2 separate regions of the Homo sapiens genome follow, and region 2 is linked to region 1. Evidence: fine-mapped expression QTL. A gene starts in region 1. The other region holds a variant in brackets. All regions are shown on one strand. Distances are between the middles of the regions. Region 1 holds the start of WDR54 (WD repeat domain 54). Region 2 overlaps TET3 (tet methylcytosine dioxygenase 3).

What was found. PIP is the estimated chance that this variant, and not a neighbour inherited with it, causes the effect.
Region 2: its variant is fine-mapped to the expression of WDR54 in whole blood (TOPMed, PIP 0.93).

Annotation. Positions count from the first base shown.
Region 1 is chr2:74,415,730-74,425,257 of GRCh38, reverse strand. It overlaps WDR54 (WD repeat domain 54), which reads right to left and starts at 3,528. Exons shown (of 10, transcript NM_032118.4): 1 at 3,442-3,528; 2 at 2,883-3,105; 3 at 2,326-2,388; 4 at 1,873-1,939; 5 at 1,727-1,780; 6 at 1,276-1,403; 7 at 283-383; 8 at 21-183. The coding sequence starts at 3,104. It overlaps C2orf81 (chromosome 2 open reading frame 81), which reads left to right and starts at 3,639. Exons shown (of 3, transcript NM_001316764.3): 1 at 3,639-3,715; 2 at 9,017-9,247; 3 at 9,331-9,528. The coding sequence starts at 3,698. It also overlaps the pseudogene HMGA1P8. RefSeq lists an enhancer at 2,849-3,028 and a silencer at 3,429-3,708.
Region 2 is chr2:74,032,664-74,040,663 of GRCh38, reverse strand. All of the region lies in intron 3 of TET3 (tet methylcytosine dioxygenase 3), which reads right to left. Among named protein-coding and RNA genes, the nearest start is that of TET3, 52 kb to the right of the region's middle. RefSeq lists a silencer at 7,777-7,922 and an enhancer at 7,987-8,000. The variant C/T (reference allele first, on the strand shown) is at 4,620.

The sequences.
Region 1 (9,528 bases):
GTACAGAGGAGGAGACTTACCTTGCCCACCTCAGAAGCCAGGTCCAGGGCGCAGATGGCCCGGGCATGGGCATTGATCTGGACATGTAGATTTCCTGTAGTGGCCTCATATAGATGCACTTGTCCGTTCCCATAGCCTGCTGCTATGATCCCCTGCCACAGCTGCACAGAGGGGCACGGAACTCTGCAAGGGTGACACCCAACTTTGTTTTGCCCAGATCAAATCCTACTCCCCAGCCTGAAGCTATCTCAGGAAGCCCTCTACCCTTTCTGCCTCACCTACCCAAATCCTGGAATGCGGGTCAATAATGTGAATTCTGGCCCTGACCGCCAGACACACAGCAAGCCTGAGTCATCTGCCGTCACCATGTCAGCCACACAATCCTGAAGGGAAAGGCAAGATCAACCCTTCCCTTTCTCCCCTGCTATGGTCCTGTATACAGGGCAGGAGGGGAAGGGAGGCAGTGTGTGCATCTTTGCCTCTCCAGGGAAAGGGCAAGGTGTGGAGCTCTCACTAGCTAGACCCATCAGAAACCACCCCTACCACCAGGGTTCCCTTGGGAAGCATGAACTGCTTTCCTTGAATTTCTTCATGGAGTCCCATCCCCCAATAACATTAGGAGGGGGTGCATAATTGCCTCACTGGATGGATGATAAAACTGAGGCCACAGTGTCGTGACCTTCTGGAGGTCTCGTAGTGAACCAGTCACAGTCATGACTAGACCCTGGGCCCCTGCACCCCCAACACCAGGCAGCCAACACAACCTATGGGCCTAGCCCTATGCCAGGTACAATGGAGAATATGAATAAGAAAATATACACCCTGTTCTCAAGAGGTTTGCAAATTACTTGGGGAGACAAGAGTTGTCTTTTGAGGGCAGTGCCAATTCAGGTTTCAGCTAAGAGACATCAGTGGGAGCTAGAATATGGGGAAGGCTTCCTGGAGAGGATGGATGGCACTGGAGCTGGGCCTGAATAGGTGGGACTTGCCCTAGAGAAGGAAGCTGCACATTTCAGAGCTGGAAAGTATCTTAGAAACCATTTGTTCCAACTCCTCATTTCACATCAGTATTATAAAGTCTTAATTAACTATAAAATACTACATAAATGTAAAGTATCTCTGGCTTTATCACTGAACCTGGTTGCTGAAGACTAGGAAAATGTAGATTTGCCCAAAGCCATCCACCTGTTTAGTGGCAGAGCCAAGACTCAAAGCCAGGTCCCCTGCCTCCCAGGGTGGGGAAGGCTCCCAGATGGGTAGGGGAAGTCCACTCACCTGTCCCTGGGCAGGCTCGGTGGCAATGTCTGTGATTGGCATCTGGTGCCCAGCCAGCTCCTCGCTCAGTACAATGTTGGGACCCTTTGCTGGGATGTCAAACACCAGCACCCGGCCTGACCACGTTCCTGTATCCAGAACCAGTACTCCAGTGATGACTTCCTGACCCTCCTGGGTCTCCAGCCACCATACTCAACACTTACTCCATCCCAGAAACCTTAGTAACAAAACCCCCTCTCACTGCTCCAACGGCCATGCCCCTTCATTCACTAGCCTTGTCTTATCCCACCCTGACCCTCTGAACCCTTCCATGGTTTACTGGAGTCTCTGATTCCACTCCACTTCCACCCTTCCCTCTAACTTTCCACAATTTCCTCAGGCCCTCATTATTCTCCTGGCCACAGCCCACATGCCCCAGCACCCCTCCATGCCCTGCACTTGGCTCCCTCACCCACACAGATGAAGTGGCCACTGGCAGCAATTCCCCGGGCAAACACAGCCTGTACTGAATATGAAAGGGGAGAATGATCAGAAATATCCCCTCCTGCAGCCCTAGCAAACACTCCCTGCCCCCACCCCACTTGGTCCTGCAGGTACCTGGGGAGGCATCTCCAGAGTCCAGTGCATGCCAGTAGACCATGGTGTAGCCATTGGACTCGTACATCTGGAAGACCGGGGCAAGAACCAGGGGGCATAACCCAACTGACCTCTGCTGAGTACTTCACATATCCGTGTTAGCCTTAGCCCATTTAATCCTCAAAACAAATCTGGGATGTAGGTACTATTTTTATCCTAATTTTTTCAGAGGACAACAGTGAGAGTGAGAAGTTAATAGTGTAAGGACATACAGCTAGTAAAGGGGCAGATACTGGAGGTGGCACTTGGAAACTGGAAAAGATGGAAAGATTGAAGATAAGAAATAGAAAAAGAGTGAGTGGGCCAAGCATGTGAAAAGTCTGGAAGTGTTTAGAGGCAAGTGGGAAAGTCTGGAAGCCTGGCAGGGAAGCTGAGAAGGCTCTGGTGGGGCAAGCAGGAGAGTCCTCTTCTTACCTGTATTCCTCGATGTGAGGTGAGTACCAGCAGCACTCGGAAGGGGAGGACACACCAGTGGACCTGGAGGGAGGTGCATCAGTGTAGGGAGAAAATCAAAGCAGGGAAGATGAGTTTGTTTGTTTTTTTTTTTTTTTTGGGGGACGGAGTCTTGCTCTGTGGCCCAGGCTGGAGTGCAGTGGCGCCATCTCGGCTCACTGCAACCTCAGCCTCCTGGGTTCAAGCGATTCTCCTGCCTCAGCCACCCAAGTAGCTGGGATTACAGGTGCACGCCACCACACCCGGTTAATTTTTTTTGTATTCTTAGTAGAGAAGAGGTTTCACCATGTTGGCCAGGCTGGTCTCGAACTCCTGGCCTCAAGTGCCCGTCTCAGCCTCCCAAAGTGTTGGGATTACAGGCGTGAGCCACCGCGCCCGGCAGGAGAGGGGAGATTCTGAGGTTAGGACATGCCTGGGGAGATTCTGAGGTTAGGACATGCCTGCTCCTGAAGGTTTGGAGAGAAAAGGCTGGGGGTAGGACTGGGTTCAGCAACATCACTCCCAGCTCCATGCCTCACCTGAGTGATAAGTGGGGGACTCACTCCAGCACCCTCCTTAGCGTGGAGCTGGCGCTGGGCCAAGGGCACACCCTCAGGAGCAGCGCTGAGAAGCTGGGCGCTTGGTCCATGAACCACGCCAAAATACGTGAGGTTGCGAGCCGGCAGCTGCAGCACACTGAGGTTGTTGCACAGGGCGGCGGCCGAGCCTCGCAGGGGAATGGAGCGCTCCCAGCGGAACATCCTGTGTGGGGGTGCAGCCGAATCACCAGGCGCGCTACAAACAGACGCAGCGGAGATGCCCGAGGGCGGCTATCATCGAGCATTTCGGAAGATGCCTGAGACTGGGTCATAGGATGGGGTGCCCAGAGGACGGTGATGGGGGAGGGTCTCGAGGAGCAAGACAGGGGAGTCCCAGGGCTGTTTTGGGGCGACGGGGGAATCGCAGAGGAGGAATGGGGATGACACAGGACCACCCGATGGCCCCAAGCCCGCGAGCCAAATAAGTGTGATGAAGCCCCCAAGGCTTTCTCCCTCGGCTCGGATCCCTGAAGCCCCCGGCCTAGATCAGAGGTAACACCTGCAGCCCCAGATCGGCTCGCCTGACTCCTGGTTCGTAGGGTCCCTCCAAATCCGCCGCCACCATAGAGACGACGCACGTACGCACGGCCCTTGGGCGGGGTGAGCGGCCGGAACGTGCCGCGGGCGGCGCGGTTGCCGGGGCAACTGTGGGCGGGGCGAGCGACCCCGAGCCCGTGGTTGCCCAGGCGACTGTTAGGTGGCTTACGCGGCCCGGATGCAGCAGAAACACCAGCGTTGCTGCGACCGCGTTGGCGATGGCGCACGAAGGCTCGGTGAGCTTCAGTTCAGCTGGGGATGCGCCAGAGCCAGGGTCGGCCGTTAAGGTCGGTGTCGGGAACAGTGGGCTGGCTCTGGGCCGCCCAGTGCCCCTACTTGCTCCCGCCCACCGCGCGGGAGTTTAGATGACCAAGGAAGCCACGTCGGTACTCGGGCAGAAAACCTACACCTGCACGGTGCCCACTCAAACGCTTTGTTACACTCAAGCCATGAGGGAAAGGGTCAGTGGGTGGTGTAGAGCCCGAGAACAGGAAGTGGATTTTGAAACAGCTAATGAATGTAGTAAGTCTCTTACATGGTGGTGCGTATTTAAATGGATGAGCATTTAGAGAGGGAAGATAACAGAAAAAATCTATTTCGAGAATTTCAAGAGGAAGAAATATATTAAATAATTCAGAGACTGCACTTGAAAGTCAAATTGTTTAAGAGCCAATCAATTTTAAAATAAAGAAAACGGGGCCGGTCTCAATGGCTCATGCCTGTAATCCCAGCACTTTGAGAGGCTGAGGCGGGAGGATTGCCTGAGCTCAGGAGTTCAAGACCAGCCAGGCCAACATGGCGAGACCCCGTCTCGACTAAAATACAAAAAATTAGCTGGATGTGGTGGCGCGGTGCCTGTAATCCCAGCTACTCGGGAGGCAGAGGCAGGAGAATTGCTTGAACTCGGGAGGCGGAGGTTGCAGTGAGCCGAGATCGCGCCACTGCGCTCTAGCCTGGGTGACAGAGAGAGACTGTCTCAAAAAAAAAAAAAAAAAAAAAAAAAAAAGAAGAAGAAGAAAGAAAACGGATTTGAAGAGCCTTTGTGCAAAAATATCTCTGTCCCTTCTGGTCACCATCACGGGTGTCAGATGCGAGGCTGGGAGGGGAGGTCTAAGGAAACAACTCTCTTTACTCAGTCCAGTCAGCCCTGCTCTAGTCAAGCTTGGCCTGGGCTATGGGCCACTCCTGGTGCTTGCTACAGGGCTGTTCTCACTGGTGGATAGGGTTAATGAGACTTCAGGGATTTTGAGTTCTGCAAGACTTAGGAAACAGCAGATTTGGGGGGATAATGAATTTTAGGAAACAGATATGAGACAAGGTTTTAGCGGGGCAATAGGCAAAGGTTTGGGAAGATCACATTTGGAAGTACATTTTGGAAGGAACCAGGTTCAGGGAGACTGTTGTGGGGAATTGAGGGAGCTCCCAAGAGATTGTTTGTAAACTTTTTATGTCTCTAAAGTGAGTTTTGGGGACTAGTCTTTTTTTTTTTTTAAGTGATTACAAAAGGAAACAAACTCATTGTAGAGAACTTACAAAATAGAAAAGAGCATAGGAAGGAAACGTATCCTCTGTTATCATTTTGAAGTTTTCCTTTTGTTGAACACATAGTGGTTTACATATATGAGATCATAATTGATGTGTAAGTTTGTATCCTGCTTCTTTCAATTAACGTTACATCATAAACATTTGCTTTATGCCATTGCAAATTCTTTCTAAAGATTACCTTTAATGGCTGGGTTGGTGGCTCATGCCTGCAAGGTGGGCAGATCACTTGAGGCCAGTTCAAGACCAGTCTGGCCAACATGGCGAAACCCCATCTCTACTAAAAATAGAAAAAAAATTAGCCAGGCCTGGTGGCAGGCGCCTGTAATCCCAGCTACTCCGGAGGCTGAGGCAGGAGAATTGCTTGAACCTGGGAGGCAGAGGTTGCAGTGAGCCGAGATCTTGCCACTGCACTCCAGCCTGGGTGACAGAGCGAGATTCCGTCTCAAAAACAAAAACAAACAAACAAAAAAAGATTACCTTTAATCATTGCATAATATTTCAGTATATATAGCATGTCAATTATTTATTCTCTTTTTAAAGACATGTTTTCAATATTCTGCTATTATAAAAATACCGCAGAGAATTTGTTGGAGAATATATTTTTATCTTCATTTCAGAAAATGCCTTTTGGTTGTATTTATAGAACTGAAATTGCAGGGTTGAGGAAGTGAAAACATTTTTTAATGTCTTCATGCATACTGTTGCAGCATGGTATCACACTAAACCTTTGCCAATGCTGAGTATTCTTGTTTTTAAAATAATTCCAATTTGATGAACTAGAAATCAGAATGTCAATACTATATTTATTAGTCATCTACAGTCCCTCTCTTGTGAAATGTCATGTCCTTTGCTTATCTTTGGGATCTTAAATGGTTTTTCTTCTTATAGTTTAAATTTTTATTGCAATATAGCCCAAGCTGGACTTGAACTCCTGGGCTCAAGCAATCCCCCTGCCTCAGCCTCCCGAGCAGCTGGTACTGTGGGTGTGCGCCACTGTGCCTGGCCATTTTTCTTCTTCTATTTTTTATTTTATTAGTTTTTTTTTTCTTTTTTGAGACAGAGTCTCGCTCTGTCACCCAGGCTGGAGTTCAGTAGCATGATCTCAGCTCACTGCAAACTCTGCCTCCCGGGTTCAAGTGATTCTCGTGCCTCAGCCTCCCTAGTAGCTGGAATTACAGGCGCCCACCACCATGCCTGGCTAATTTTTGTATTATTAGTAGAGACGGGGTTTCACCATGTTGGCTAGGCTGGTCTCGAACTCCTGACCTCAAATGATCCACCCACCTCGGCCTCCCAAAGTGCTGGGATTACAGGCGTGAGCCACTGCGCCCGGCCATTTTTTTTTTTATATGAGCTTTTAATTTACTCGGGGATATTTATCTTTTTTCATATTTGTTGCAAATGTCTTTGAGAGGCTCTGGAGTCAGACAGACTTGCATGTGAATGCATTCTGACTTCACTACATCCTACTTGTATGATACTGGGTAAATTACCATAAAATGGAGATAAGAATAGTTGGTTAAAAAAAAAAAATGTAGAGAACTTTTTAAGCTCCCCTGAGCCGGGGCTGTGCTCTTCTAAGTGGGACTCCGAGCCTGGGCTATTTCTGGCGCTGGCGCGGCTCCAGGAAGGCATCCGCATTTGCGACCAGGGGCGGCTGCGGTGGAGACTGGCCTGTCCTCAGCGCCCAGCACCGCTGCTCCCGGCAAACCGGAGCATGCACCGCAGGCCAGCGGCCGAGTTCGCCCATCCCAGCCATCACTTTTCCAACTAGTCCTTAGAGAAGGGAAGATGAGCGAGTCGAGCTCGAAGTCCAGCCAGCCCTTGGCCTCCAAGCAGAAAAAGGACGGCACTGAGAAGCGGGGCCGTGGCAGGCCGCGCAAGCAGCCTCCGGTGAGTCCCAGGACAGCGCTGGTAGGGAGTCAGAAGGAGCTCAGCGAAGTGCCAACACCTAAGAGACCTCGGGGCCGACCAAAGGGAAGCAAAAACAAGGGTGCTGCCAAGACCGGGAAAACCACCACAACTCTGGGAAGGAAACCAAGGGGAAGACCCAAAAAACTGGAGAAGGAGGAAGAGAAGGGCATCTCGCAGGAGTCCTCACTGGAGGAGCAGCTTCCTTCTGGGACTGGACAGCTTTGATCTGCTCCCAACCCCCCACCTCCCACCCCCCACCCCTTCCCTACACCCACCATCACCACCGCCTCCAGCCACCACCCTCATCTTCCACCTGCACCTTCACCACCACACTACACAACACACCAGCCGCTGCAGGTCCCTATGGGCTGAGTGGAGAGGACTTTTCCCCTGGCCTCTTCCCATCCCTACCCCCTCCTCCCCCCGTCCACCCACTCATACACATGTGCCCTCCTGGACAAGGCTAATGTCCTGCTTAGCCGCACCCTGCACCTGCTGCGTCCCTGATCCCTTGGTGGTGACATTGCTCTCTGGGCTTTTGGTTTGGGAGCCACTTCTCTGCTCCTCCACTGTTGCCTCTGGCTTCCCATAGAGGGGCCTGGGAGGGTTCCCCTGGTCTTAAAAGGGGCCCAAGCCCCCATTCTGGCACACCCCACTCCACTGTCCTGGCAGCAGCAGGTGTGGCCAATGGAGGGGGGTGCTGGCCCCCAGGATTCCCCCAGCCAAACTGTCTTTGTCACCACGTGAGGCTCACACCTTTCATCCTTCCCCACCTTCCCTAGTCCCTGCACTAGGTTGGACAGCCCCCATTGGCTACAGGAAAGCGGGAGGGGTGTGAGTCCCCTACTCCCTCTTTGCAGTGGCCCCAGCCCCCTTACCGTCTGCCTGGGATCTGAGTACATATTGCAGTGATGGAGATGCAGTCACCTATTGTCCAGGTGAGGCCCATGAGCCCTGTGGCAGCTACCTGAGGTGGGCTGGGGCTGCTCCCCCAACCCTACTTTGCTTCTACCACTTGGCCATTTTCCTCTCCTCAGATGGGGCACCAATAACAAGGAGCTCACCCTTCCCACTCCCAGCCCTCCTGCTCCTGCCACCCCCCCAGGTTCTGGTTCCATTTTTCCTTTGTTCACAAACTACCTCTGGACAGTTGTTTTGTTTTTGGTTCAATGTTCCATTCTTTGACATCTGTCATTGCTGCTGCTAGCAGCGCCAAATGTTCATCCACATTGCCTCCTGTTCTGCCCATGATCCCCTCCCCCAGGTTACTCTTCGTGGAGAAGAGGGGCTGGGGCATGGCAGGCTGGGTGACTGACTACTCCCCTAGGATGCTGCAGCAGAGAGAGCAAGGGGGCCCAAATCCACCATAAAGCATGTAGGGGCCACCTGCTCCCCCGGGTCTGTCAGGGAGGGGTAGCCATGATTTGTCCCAGCCTGGGGCTCCCCCTCTGGTTTCCTATTTGCAATTACTTGAATTAAAAAAAAAAAATCCTTTTCTGGAAAACAAAATGTAGAGAAGACTCTAAATAGCACCAATAATTCCAGGACTGTTTACTGAATTGTCTTTCTCAAGTAATTTGAACACTCAAGAATTTTGAACACTTTGCTCTGGTATAAGGGCCATGAAGTTAAACCTTCACATTGTCTGGGCTTGCTCACTGTGTGCTCCTAAGCAAGGCTGGTTAACTTCTGTCAGACTTCGGTTTCTTTTTTCTTTCTTTTTCTTTTTCTTTTTTTTTTTTTTTTTTTTTTTTGAGACGCAGTCTTGCTCTGTCGCCAGGCTGGGGTGCAGTGGCGCAGTCTCTGCTCACTGCAACCTCCATCTCCCGGGTTCAAGTGACTCTCCTTCCTCAGCCTCCCCACTTCAGTTTCTTTATCTGTCAATTGTGGTTAGTGGGCTGTTAATGAAAATTATTAGGTCAAACATCTACTAAGTATCTGTCACATAGTAGGCTCTTCGTCAATTGGCCCTTTTCCTTCCCACTAGACAACTTGAGAAAGCTTCCTCCTAGCCTATAGCTACTCTTCCGTTCCACTTCTTGGTTTCCTGCTCTGATTGCCATGTTTTGTTCTCACAGAGGCAGGAGAGGCAGGTCCGAGACCGCGGGGTGACCCGGTCCAAGGCGGAAAAAGTGCGGCCGCCCACTGTGCCAGTGCCGCAGGTGGATATTGTGCCTGGGCGGCTCAGTGAGGCCGAGTGGATGGCGCTTACAGCCCTCGAGGAGGGCGAGGACGTCGTAGGGGACATCTTGGCCGACTTGCTGGCTCGAGTCATGGACTCTGCTTTCAAAGTCTACCTGACTCAGCAGGTGGGCCGGGATCCGGGTCCTTCAGACTCGTCTCCCTCTCCCGCCCCTCCCTGCCGACCTGAGATCCTCTCTCGCCTCCGCAGTGCATTCCATTCACCATCAGCCAGGCCCGGGAGGCCATGCTGCAGATCACCGAGTGGCGCTTCCTGGCCCGGGACGAGGGAGAATCTGCAGTAGCTGAGGACCCCACATGGGGTGAGGACGAGGAGCCTTCGGCATGCACGACGGACTCCTGGGCTCAGGGTTCAGTGCCCGTGCTGCACGCGTCCACCTCGGAGGGC
Region 2 (8,000 bases), 380 kb after region 1:
CTGGGATTACAGGTGTGAGCCCCCATGCCTGGTCTAAATGTCTGCTTTCTGTCTGGACTTCTCAACTACCCTCCAGCTAGCTCCAACCCCTAGACCATGCCGTAAGCCCACTGAGAGTCAGCTTGTCTAAAACAGAACTGAACTCTCCCTCCTGAGAGCAACTTTCCCAACTTTCCTATTTTTGCATTCACCAACATTCCCAACCCAAATGTTACCCATATTCTTCCAATGTGTGCAGTCATTGGATCCAAACAATTCTAAATGTGAACTGTCTCTCAATTTTATCTCCTCCCTTTCCATCCCTGCCTTCCCAATCTGGGTCCTTCTGTGTGTATGTTTTAATTGTCTCACCTGACAGTCGGTCCTTTAAGCAACTCTATGTATCCCCAAGCCCCCTCCCTGACCACACATATGTGTGCATGCACACACACCACACACACACTCTTCTCCACTCTACAATCTCTTGAACATACCCTCTCTTAAGACTCCCAGCCACCAACTTCATAACTCTTCCTCATTGTCCACCCTGGCTTCAATCTTCAGTTTAAGAATGCCATTCATATGCATCGAGTGCTTAATACGTGTGACATACTGTGTGTTCCAAAGATAGCCACAACATTCCCTCCATTCCACATGCTCTTCTTACTGTGTGACTTGGACATTTCCCCCATGGAGAGGTGGGGGTCTATGTTCCCTCCTCTTCAATCTGGGTGGGCTCGTGATAATAGAAGTGATGCTACATGACTTTCAAAGCTAGATCATAAAAGGCAATTCAGCTTCTGCCTGGTTCTCTTGGGATTCTCACTCTTGGAGCCCAGTCACCATGCTGTGAGGAAGCCCAGGCCATGTGGAGAGGCCACATGGAGGAGTCAGCTGACATTCCCAGCTGAGGTCCCAGCCAACAGCTGCCATCATCTGCCAAATGTGTGAGTGAAGGAGCCCTTCGAGGATTCCAGCCCAGTCATTAAGTTACCTCCAGCTTTTATGCCTTCCTAGCTGAGACCCTAAATATTAAGGAACATATAGAAGCTACCCATGCTGTTGTCACTTCTGACTTCCCAATCCACAGAATCCCTGGGCATAACAAAATGATTACTGTTTTATACTACTGTGTTTTGGGGTGATTTGTTGCCTGACAATAGACCAGACTATGTATTTCAGGACCCCAAAAAGTTTTAAGATGAAAAGGAAGAAAAAGGCCTATATATAAGTCAATGCCCTAAATCATATCAGTGCTGTGAAAGCAGTATCTACAGGGGCCTGTGGTGGCTCAGTATATACAGCTATCTGGGCAGGTGGGCAGGTGGGTGTCCAGGAAGGTTTTATCTCAAAGAAATCTCAGAGAGGCTGGAGAAAGTAGCAGGTATTTTGGAAGAAGGGGAAGAATTCTGCAGGAGTTCCAGATGGAAGGAATAGCATGTGAAAAGGCACAGAATCATAAGCCCTGGCAGGCTTGGAGATGCATAAGCTGTTGAGTGTATCTTGATCGCAAAGGCAGGGGAGGCAGGTGTGTGGACCACAGCCTGAATGCTACAGAGAGCAGATTTACATCTCAGGAGGGGCATTCAGGCATCTTGCAGAAGACAGACTGCAGGGTTCGAGGCTGGTGACCCAAAGACCAGTTAGGAGACTATGCAACTGTCCAGATTAGTAACAATAAGGACCTGAACTAAGGCACTAGCAGACAGATGGGGATGAAACGTGGTTATGGAGGTTAAGTGATTAAATTTAGCAGTGAGACAAGGAACAGAATCAATCCCTCCCTGAGAAAGTCCTCCTTGACCAGTCCTTTCCACCACAGGCTGCCCCAGAGCCTACAGTTACCGTGCACAGCCACGTTCTGTTAGGGATCTTTTCGTAAGAGTGTATGGTCAACTACACCATTTGCTCCTAGGGAACCAGGCATCTGCCACACCTTCAAAACCTACCGGAGTCTCTAGAATGCATTCAAAAAGCTCTGTCACTGCTTCCTCCCTAGGGACCTGGCTGGTGCAAGCCTCATCACCCCTATACTTTGAGATGACCCATGGAAGCTCTAGGCAGAGTTGGTGATCTCTCTGCTATTATGGCACCCATTACAATGCACACATGGTAGAGGTCTGCAAAGGCTACAGGGGCCTCCAGAGAAGCCCAAGGTGCTAGTGCTGCACATCTTACTGCCAACTTCCAGGTGCAAACCCCTTTTCCCTGCCCTCGCTGGGTCCTCACACCCAACCCCATCAGGTTTCTTCCCTGCTTCACAATATCACTGAAAGGGGGTATGCCCATCCCAGGCTAGGTCTTCCCCAAGTTGGAGGTGTGTTCCCATCACCTAGGGGCAGCAGGAATTTGTTACTAGGAGACTGAGAGGCAGGAAACATTACTCAGGCAGAGAAAATGCCCTTCTCAGATCCAAGAAGAGACATAACTCTTCACTACACTCCATGAAGAGTTCATATGTGCATACAGCATCGCCAACCCCAGTCACATTTCCCACCTTCAGAGAGCTGGGGACCCTGTGCTGAAGGTGACCCTGCACCCCGCCTGGCTAGCTCACAAGGTCCCCTGCCTCCTCCTCTACAGTGCACTGTCTTCTTAGACTCCCAAATCCCCAGAGCTGGTCCTCCAGACATCTGCAGGCATTCAACAGCAGCACCCTGCTCTCCCCACCCAGGGGACTCCAGAGCCCCCCAGATGCCAGGCAAGGCTGGAAAAGTGTGGAACGCCACTCCCCAAACACCTCGTTCAGTCAACAACACAGTGAAGGATACAGATATGACACCAGGTTTCCCAAATCCTTCCTTACTCTCAACACATCAAAACCAGATCAGCAATTCTCTATTAAAGGAAAATAGGGAAGAGAGAAGACAAGAATGTTATCTTGAAAGAGCAAAGTCCTGATTGGCTATACCTTCTTAAGGCCTTTAAGAAAGGGGAAGTTACAAGAGGAACAGAGTCTGGAGGGCTGTTTTGCTGACTGTCAGCAGTTACACACCATATTAGAAGAACCATGTCCAAGAAGGTGTTTTTGGCCAGAATGAACTAGCCTGTAGTCAACCTTCAGAGCCCAGTAGCCCATTCTCTGCAAAGGAATCTCCTGAAGCGAATTCTCATGGGACTCCAAGATAGTGGTGGCAACACCCCACCCTGCTAAGCCAGTAAACTCCACCCAGTACTTTCCCAACCACACATACCACCAGCTCAGCTACTCTGATCCACAGCAGCTGTTCAAGGGGCTGCTCTTTCCAGCCTCATCCTTTATCTCAGTCCTAGAGTTCAGAATCCACCTCCTTACAAAGCTAATTCCTTCTTCCTTGCCACCAAATGGATGGCCCCACTCTCTCTAATAGCAAATGGGTTGTATTTATGGCATGTTCTGTCTAGGGTTGATCAATTATTCATTTCTTAAGAGGATTCTCCCTTCGGAAGATTTATTGATAAAACTAATAAGCGAGTGCAGAAAGAGAGTTTTAGGGGAACCCTTGCAGAGGAGGTGCACATCTGCCTGTTCTTGCAGAAGTGAGTGTGTGCCCATGGGCACACTGGCTAGCCCAGTCCCATGTCTGCACCCTCCATACCCAAACTGGCCACCTCTGCAGACAGCAACTCCAGGATTATGTCTAACTTCTTGAGAGCATTATACGTTGGCAGAGGGTATTCTTATATGGGGGGAGGGGGAGGCAGTTGTTCTTGTGGTTACTACATGCATACCAGTAAAACATTTTAAAATCTAATTTTTTTTCCTACTACAAAATGGGCAGATACAGCAAATCTGTCAGTGGCTGGGGTGATACTTAGAAAAAAGCTGAAATGGGCCTAATTCCCTGAGGTCATCATATCTGGCAGAAGCACAGGACTTTGTTCATGTCCTCTGACCTAACAGTAACTAATGTGGGTTCGAGGAAGAAAGGAAAAGAAGGAACCAGGAAAAGTCTCTACGTGACTCTGATGGAACCCTCTTATGACAGGCAGAGTATCATGCAAATTGTCGCACATTCACTTATCTCATTTAATCACCACAGGCTCCTCCAAGGTGGAGATCAGAGATAAGGACACTAAACACAGAGAGGGCAAGTAATTGCCTCAAGATCACAAGGCAATGTGGAAGAGCACAGCCATTTTTAACCACTAAGTACTCTTAATTTCACTGGAAATGTAAAAGTAAACAAGCCAACAGAAGACATAAAAAAGCTACATGTGCCAATGATTTTCCCTCAAGCATGAACAGCAGAGAATTACAAACAACCTGAGTGCCCCAACAATAGGGAGATGGTTTTAAATTTTATATTTCTTCTTCATGAAAAGGGAATAAACATATGAAAAAATACTCAGTATCATCAGTAATCAGAAAAATACAAAAGAAGATCACAAGAAGATTCCATTTTACACCTATTACGTAGGACTGAAGAGGAAGAACATTTAGTTTGAATCGTGGCCCCACCACTTACTAGCTGTGTGACCATAAGCAAGTTAGCTAATCTCTCTGCGCCTCTGTTTTGTCACCTGTAAATTGGGGATGAGTAACAGTACCTATCTCACAAGATTATTATGAAAATTAAACAATATATGAAGAGCATTTATAACAGTACCAGGTACATAGTAAGCACCGCGAGAGGGTATTTTAGTTTAATACCAAGTGC[C/T]GACGGGGTTTAGCAAGAACTTTTTTTTGAGACAGAGTCTCACTCTGTCGCCCAGGCTGGAGTGCAGTGGTGGGATCTTGGCTCATTGAAACCTCTGCCTCCCGGGCTCAATGATTCTTGTACCTCAGTCTCCCAAGTAGCTGGGACTACAGGCGCACAACATCACACCCAGCTTGCTTGCTTATTTATTTATTTAGTAGAGAAGGGGTTTCATTATGTTGGTCAGGCTAGTCTCAAACTCCTGGCCTCAAGGGATCCACCCACCTCGGCCTCCCAAAGTGTTGGGATTACAGGCAGGAGCCACCACATACTTTTTTTGAAACAGAGTCTCACTCTGTCGCCCAGGCTGGAGTGCAATGGCACGATCTCGGCTCAATGCAACCTCCACCTCCTGGGCTCAAGTGATTCTCTTGCCTCAGCCTCCCGAGTAGCTGGGATTACAGGCGCCCACCACCATGCCCAGCTCATTTTTGTATTTTTAGTAGAGACAGGGTTTCACCATGTTGGTCAAGCTGCTTTCAAACTCCTGACCTCAAACCACCATGCCCGGCCCCAATAACTACATTTTTTTTTTTCTTTTTGAGATGGAGTCTTGCTCTGTTGCCCAGGCTGGAGTGCAGTGGCGCGATCTCGGCTCACTGCAAGCTCCGCCTCCCAGGTTCACGCCATTCTCCTGCCTCAGCCTCCCGAGTAGCTGGGATTACAGGTGCCCACCACCATGCCCAGCTCATTTTTGTATTTTTAGTAGAGACAGGGTTTCACCATGTTGGCCAGGCTGGTTTTGAACTCCTGACCTCAAACCACCATGCCCGGCCCCAATAACTTTTTTTTTTTTTTTTTTTTGAGACGGAGTCTCACTCTGTTGCCCAGGCTGGAGTGCAGTGGCGCGATCTTGGCTCACTGCAAGCTCCGCCTCCCAGGTTCACACCATTCTCCTGCCTCAGCCTCCCGAATAGCTGGGACTACAGGCGCCCGCCACCATACCTGGCTGATTTTTTTTTTTTTTTTGTATTTTTTAGTAGAGACAGGGTTTCACCATGTTAACCAGGATGGTCTTGGTCTACTGACCTCGTGATCTGCTTGCCTCAGCCTCCTAAAGTGCTGGGATTACAGGCATAGCCACTGCGCCCGGCCCTCAACAACCACTTCTTATACCTCACTGGCAGGAAGGCAAAACAGAACAAATACTTTGAAAAGGTTTGTGGTGCTACCTTTTAATGTCAAACATGCACATCTCCTACAGCCCAGCAATCCGACTCCTAGGAAAGCTTTGTACACATGCATCAGGAGACATGTACAGAAATTTTCATGGCAGCATTACTCATAAAAATCACATCATGGAAGTATTTCTAAAGGAGCATAAACTACAGAATGGACAATGGAATATTATAGAGCAGTGTCAATGAATGAGCCACAGGAACATCAATGAATCCCAGAATCTACAACAGGGTTTTTTTTTTTTTTTTTTTAATCAATGCTCGAGGACTACATATGTCCTACTGAGTCTACAAACCTCAAACAAGCAAGCAAAATTAAATGTATTGTACAGAAATGCAAACTTATATAATGAAGACTTTAAAAAGCAAGGGAATGATAACAAAATTCAAGGTAATGGTTACCTCTGGAGGTGAAGAAGGGAGATAGGGCTGGGGGAAAACACCCAGGTAATTTCAATGATGTTGGCAATATTCCAGCTAACTTGGGGAACTGGCATGTGTTTATTATTATGCTTTATCTGTTTAACATATATAAAATACTAGGGTCAAGTATGGTTCAAGTAATACATAAAAAAAAAAACTATAATACAGCCATACCTTGTTTTATTGTGCTTCATTCTATTGTGTTTCACAGATACTGGGGGTGGTTTGTTGTTTTTTTTTTTTAATGACGAATTTAAGGTTTGTGGCAACCTCACATTGGGCAAGTCTCTTTTTCTTTTTTTTTCTCTGAGACAGAGTGTTGCTCTTGTTGCCCTGACTAAAGTGCAATGGCACGATCTCGGCTCACTGCAACCTCCGCCTCCTGGGTTCAAGCGATTCTCCTGCCTCAGCCTCCCAAGTAGCTAGGATTACAGGTGCCCACCACTATCCCTGGCTAATTTTTGTGTTTTTAGTAGAGATGGGATTTGGCCATGTTGGCCAGGCTGGTCTCGAATTCCTGACCTCAGGTGATCCGCCCGCCTCAGCCTCCCAAAGTGCTGGGATTACAGGAGTGAGCCACCGTGCCCAGCCACATTGGGCAAATCTTACTGGTGTCATTTTCAATAGCATGTGCTTACTTTGTTAGCATTTTTTGGCAAAAATGTATTTTAAAATTAAGGTATGTACACATTTTTTTAGCCATAATACTATCACACACTTGCTAGACTACAATATAATGTAAACACAACTTTTACATGCACTGGGAAACCAAAAAGTTCACGTGACCAGCTGTACTGCCATATTCACTTTATTGCAGTGGTTTAGAGCTGGACCTGCAGTATCTCCAACGTATGCCTGTTTATAATATTTAATCAGTAGATGTACACAACTGCTTAAAATGATATGGAATAAGAACATAAAACTAAATGTATTAAATGAAAAAGTGAAACTTGAGAATGTACTTATTAAATGAATGCTTTCAGAAGGTTTTTATGATGGGGGAAGTACATAATATTTGAAATGGGGGAAAAAATAGGATTCAAAATATTGCCCAATTTAACAGTTCAATTCAATCACAACGCATGCCTGTGTAAACACACAAAACAGCAAGGGGAATCATACAGAAATGTTAACAGTGCTTATCCTCTGCGTGATAGAGGATGAGTAACTTTCTCGTTTATAGTTTCCAAAATTTATCATAGGTATTTTCATTTTTATTTAGGGGAAAAAGATTTAAGAATAGAACACCTATAAAACACCTGAAACTGCAAACTACACATGTCTGTGAACGAGACGAGAAGGGAGCAGTCAGGGAAAATTTCTGGGTATTTTTTGTGCTATTTCTGTTGCTAGAGAGCTGTACGCAGTTATAACACAGAGGCAGATCACACATAATGCAGAAAGAAAATGAAGAAAATTTCTAAGAGATGAGACGCACTGGAAGGTGAAGATAAGCCTAGTTGAGATGGGGTGCCAAGCCTGAAACTCCCACCCATTAAAAGTTCTATGTAACTAACTTGCTGTTCTCGGACCAGAACTCCAAAATATAGCCCTGCAACTCTAACCTATGCAAAGTTATCGCCTGGGCAGCACACGCTCCCCTGCAGCAGGTGGGGGTGAAGGGGGAGCACAGCTGCTGGCTGCTCTGCAGGCTCCCCATGCCCCACCCCTAGCCTCTTGATCTGCGGCCCAGAGCAGGATCCAGCTCTCCTGACGGAAGCCCCTGCCTCAAGCAGCCGGT